2 separate regions of the Homo sapiens genome follow, and region 2 is linked to region 1. Evidence: fine-mapped expression QTL. Tissue or cell type: whole blood. Region 1 holds a variant in brackets; the other region holds the start of a gene. All regions are shown on one strand. Distances are from middle to middle.

Region 1 (2,753 bases):
ACACTGCTCCTCTCCAGGCTCTCTGCTGTGGCCCAGGATCCTAAAGGCGGCTGAGGAGAGAAGCAGTGCAGAGCCCGCAGCCTCAGTCCTGTTCTGGAGGACTGTCCCCAGCCCTGCTGGTGCTGCCTCTCTTCCTTTTCCTCATCCCCCAAAATAAAGACCTTTAGCCCCTCTCCTTCCCTCTGAAATTCCACTGGGCTTTCTTTTATTTATTTTATTTTATTTTTTTTTGAGATAGGGTCTTACTCTGTCACTCGGGCTGGAGTGCAGTGGCACGATCTCTCGGCTCACTGCAACCTCCGCCTCCCAGGTTCAAGTGAATCTCCTGCCTCAGCCTCCCAAGTAGCTGGGATTACAGGCATGCACCACCATGCCCAGCTAATTTTTGTATTTTTAGTAGAGACAGAGTTTCGCCATGTTGACCAGGCTGGTTTTGAACTCCTGACCTCAGGTGATCCACCTGCCTCAGCCTCCCAAAGTGCTGGGATTACAATGAGCCAACTTGCCCAGCCCACTGGGCTTTCTTTTTCCCTTCCATAAAGGAATTAAGTCTCAGTTTAGGCAGCTTTACTAAAAATGGACACAGACAGACAGAAATATCAGGTGTAGGAGCATCTTATTAAATAATGCCGAGAGAGAAAGGAACAAAATTACACGTGTCTCCTTTCATCCCCCCACCCCCTCCTGGCCTTGAATGGTTTAATATCGAACACTGTTATCAATATAATTAACTTCCTAAGACACAATTCTAAAGTCCTGTTTTTTTAAAAGCGATTTACATTCTCTGAAGTTCAGGACATCCCGCCGCCTGGCACCAGCGCCACCCAGCCGGCCTATGTGGTTAGGTGCATTTATAGTGGATTTGCATACCTGTCTGCAATTACCGCCAGTGATAACAGCTGATGCATAATGCATGCAGCATGAAATTAGAAAAATAATTAACTTTAGGTTTTAAAAGAATTCCCGCCCCAGCCCCCATGCATCACAAGTTCTAAATGATACCAGTGGATGGGATCCAGGAGCAAAGCTGTTCAGGGTGATGGGTGTGGCTGGCTGGCACCCTGCCCTGGCGGGAGCTGGGGTTAGAAGGTCCTTGAGGGTCATGGCATCTAGTCCCTGCCCTAAGGAGATGCCTCTGGTGGGCCTGCAGTCCCTGGGGCATCTGCCTGAACTAGGGCTTGGAAAAGCCCCACTCACACGACTCAAGGCTCCCCTCCCTTCCTGCAGTTCATGTCTGGGGCTCAGGGAAGAATGGCTCATTGCTAGTAATGGTAATAGTTCCCTCATTCTGAATACGACTCTGCTAAACATTGAAAGTAACCTTATTTTATCTTCACAAAAGCCCAGGGAAGTAGATCGTTTATGGTCAGATAGACTTGAGACCCCTGTAATCCCAGCACTTTGGGAGGCCGAGGCGGGCAGATCACCTGAGGTCAGGAGTTAGTGACCAGCCTGACCAACATGGAGAAATCCCGTCTCTACTAAAAATACAAAATTAGTGGGGCGTGGTGGTGCATGCCTGTAATCACAGCTACGCGGGAGGCTGAGGCAGAAGAATCGCCTGAACCCAGGAGGCAGAGGTTGCGGTGAGCCAAGATCGTACCATTGCACTCCAGCCTGGGCAACAAGAGCGAAACTCTGTCT[C/CA]AAAAAAAAAAAAAAAAGACTTGAGACCCAGGGCCACCCCACAGTAGGCTGAGCAGCTTGGTTGAGCCAGGCAGACCACTGGCTACTTGCCTTCACAGGAAAGGGGCTTCCTGGCGAGAAGGAGGGGAGCTCTCCCTGGGTCTCCCTGAGCACCAGGAAGCAGCGGCCTGCCCTGTCTACCTCCTGGCCCTCTTCCCTCTGTCTTATTTGCAGTTGAGCCCCCAGGAAGGTGGGGTCTTTCATTAATTTAAACAAAGGTTTGCTGAAGCCCCATCACAGAGCTGGAGATGATTGTGCCTTGGTAGGGCTTCCTGTCTAGTGGGAGGTGGGACTGGGGTCCCACTGGCCTTTCCCGCTCTGGGGCTGAGAAACTGCTTCTGCCCGCAGTCTGCCTGCACGGCATTCTCAGTGAGGAATTGAAGGCATGGCAAGGTTTAGGGGAGACACATGAATTATTGCTGAAGGGAGGGACTGGCAGGGGAAAGACACCTGCAAGGGACCCCACCTGGGGGCTGGGAAGTGGGGGAAAAGCCAAAGGACCCCAGGGTCTGCAGCAACCACACACCAGTGCCAGGCCACACACCAGTGCCAGGCCACATGGGCAGCCAGATTCCTAAGGACAGAGGCAGGCAGGTGGGCAGGAAGGAGGCTGAGGGGCAAGTGGGGGTGGGGGAGACGTGACCAGCATCCATGCACGTGAGCATGTACTTGTCTTTCCTACATACAGAGTTTACATGCAGGACACTTCCTCTCCCCGCCTGGCCCTGCCTGAGATGCCCCCATCCCAGGGATGGGACAGGTGAAAGAGGAGACGTGGGAGTGAGGCCAGACAGGGATGGGGGGCTATTTCCTTGCTGGCTTCCAGAAGCTCCTGGGACATGCCTGTGAATAGAAAATAGCATCCCCAGGTTCCATGAGGGCCAGGAGCCAGCAGCAGGGTCCCCAGCAAAGGCTGAGCAGCAGACAGTGGGCCATAAGCCACCACGAGGGGTGGGGAAGAAGCTTGGTGTCACTGACTTATAAAGGCTTTGCAGTTGGGTGTAGACACCCACACTCAGCTTCCCTACTGCTCCCCCAGACCTGGGAAACCCGGGAGGCTGCCGGCCTCT
Region 2 (2,500 bases), 99 kb after region 1:
GCTCTTACCTGAGAACTTAGGGTGCTAAGCTTTAATTACACTTTTCCATGGTTGCAACAAGCTGCGTTTTCTAAAGCTCTCTTCCTGGACTGGGGAGGCCTTTGGGGCAGGAGTAAAACTTCCTCATTTGCTCCAAGAGTGCTGCTTTCTGGGCTAGGAAGGCGCTGAGACTAGCAGCTGGCTGGACTTCCTGCTGTTAGTTTCATCAGCTTTCTTTTCCCCTGGGAATCCCCGGCAGGCCGCCCCCTTCCCCATCTGAGTGGCGATGCTCAGGTAGCCTCCCCCATTGGCAGGACTCTGCCGCCCCCAGGCTTGCCCACCCTGCATGCTCCAACCCCAGTGTGTTCACTGGAAAGGCCGCTGTCCTGCGCAGAGCTGGTGGCGGACGTGCCTTGCTCTACTGAAGTCCACATCCTAGGGCAGGTGATGAGCAGGAGGGTATAGACCACCAGAGACCCCTGAGGTGTCACCTAAGCAGGGACTTGATGGGAGTGAGCCTCGTGGGGACTCGGGGAGGCTCATCCAAGTGGAGCACAGTGGAGGGGTCGTGTTTGGAGCTGGGTGACCTGAGGGCCCGGGAGGTTGTGGATGGTCTGGGCCAAGTACTGTTCACTTGTTCACCTGGCAGGTCTGAGTTCATGAGTTTGAAGGTAGCCCTACGCGGAGCTAGGAAAAACTGCAAAATGGACTTGTTTCCCTCTGGGGCCTTGAGGGATCCTTGGTTGATAGGGATAGCCAGGCTGGAGCCGATTTAACCTGTGAGTCCCAAATAACCTGGATACACTCTGTCGACTCCTGGGCTCTCCCTCCGGCAGCCCAGTGATGTTTCAAAGCCCAAGGTCCCCACCTCATGTGACAGGCTGAGGATGGCAGACACTTCCCACAAAAGTGGACCTAGCCCTGAACACACACAGCCGGGGGACTTGTTGAGTTTGCACTGAGCTTCCCTCCAAATGAGGAAGGGGGCGTTTTTATGGTGTTGAGTCGCTAAGCCCCGCTCTCCCTAGCTTCCTGTGCTCTCTGGGGACAAAGGTGGGGGGGCCCCTGGAACCCTCTGTGGGCTGGCAGTGTGCTTCCTGCACCCAGCGCCAGCCCGCCCTGGGGAGGGGCTGAACCCGCCCTGCTCGTGATAAGGCACAAGCAAGGGCTGCCCTGAAGGAAGCTCCAAAGAGAAAGGAGGGCAGGAAGCCCACGGCCCACAGGGGTGTAGCCCGAGACCCACCTGCAGCCCCCAGCCCTTGCCAGGAAAGGTAAGCTCAGGCCTCACTGGGACCCTGGGCCCTTCTCTTCCTTATCCTCCTGCAGCCTCTGCCCAGCCTGCCTCTCGCCATGCGGCAGCCTGAACTTTCCACCTCCCCGGAGAGGCTTTGGCTGGTTTGTGATGTTGGCATCTGAGCTGTGGGCCAGGATCGGAACTACTTCCTGGCCTGGGTACGAAGCCATGGCCAGAGTGGGCAGCTGCCCCTGAGGGTCTGGGAGTGAGCTGTGGGCTGGCATTGAGCACGGTGGTCCTGAGTGAGCCCCTTCTTACCCGGCCTCAGTCTGCCCGCCTGTAGGATGGGAGCGGATTGGACTACATGGTCTCTGAGGGCCCTCGCGGCTCAAGCGCCAGCGCTGGAGAGAGAGTCTGAGGGTACCACGGGCGTGCTGGCCTGGGTGCTCACTCCCGCCCTCCTTCATGAGCGGCTTTCCTCTGGGTGTGTCCAGGGCATCACAGAGCTCTTCTGCCCAAACCCGGAGGCCTACCAGGGCCTGCCCACCTTGCCTCCTTCCACACTCTCTGTAGCAGCAGCCGCAGCCATGGCGGGGATGAAGACAGCCTCCGGGGACTACATCGACTCGTCATGGGAGCTGCGGGTGTTTGTGGGAGAGGAGGACCCAGAGGCCGAGTCGGTCACCCTGCGGGTCACTGGGGAGTCGCACATCGGCGGGGTGCTCCTGAAGATTGTGGAGCAGATCAGTGAGTGTCCGCTGCCCGCTTGCTGAACTCGGCACCATGGGCGGCCGCCACGGGTGTCTCTGGGCACTTCCGGGCCATCCCTGCTGCTCAGCTCCCGATAATGGTGTCACGGTGACTCAGGCATTAGCTTAATCATTTGGTTCCAAAAAAGACATTTCCCCAACTTCCTCTCCCTCCCACCCTCTTCCCTCCCTCCCTTCTGCTGCAGCTGGTCTGCTAAGGATCAGACGCAGCCACAATCCTCCATTCAGCCACCAATAGGGGCAGAAGGAGTGGTCTTGTCTGGGCCGAGGCTGAAGTCACATTGCTGAGGTCTGAGGGGGTCTAGGTGACCCAGGGGCCTGCCCCCACGCTCCCTCCCCTTGGCGGAAGCTTTGAGCAGGTTGGTGACAGGCCCAGCCTGGGTGGGAAGGCCCTGCCCCCACAGGAAGTTACAGCAGAGCAGCTGTGGTATCAGTCATGGAGGACCACGGGGCTAGTGACACGGGGGCTCCTCATCTTCCTTCCCTGCCGGGGGTGGGGGCTACCCCTTCCTGAGAG

The links. PIP is the estimated chance that this variant, and not a neighbour inherited with it, causes the effect.
Region 2: FERMT3 starts here. The variant in region 1 is fine-mapped to the expression of FERMT3 in whole blood (INTERVAL, PIP above 0.99).

The regions. Positions count from the first base shown.
Region 1 is chr11:64,106,669-64,109,421 of GRCh38, forward strand. The region is part of intron 3 of MACROD1 (mono-ADP ribosylhydrolase 1); the gene reads right to left. The region is part of intron 2 of FLRT1 (fibronectin leucine rich transmembrane protein 1); the gene reads left to right. Among named protein-coding and RNA genes, the nearest start is that of MACROD1, 58 kb to the right of the region's middle. The variant C/CA (reference allele first, on the strand shown) is at 1,645.
Region 2 is chr11:64,205,565-64,208,064 of GRCh38, forward strand. It overlaps FERMT3 (FERM domain containing kindlin 3), which reads left to right and starts at 1,157. Exons shown (of 15, transcript NM_031471.6): 1 at 1,157-1,250; 2 at 1,787-1,960. The coding sequence starts at 1,801. RefSeq lists enhancers at 1-328, 166-425, 329-891, 1,326-1,405, 1,726-1,805.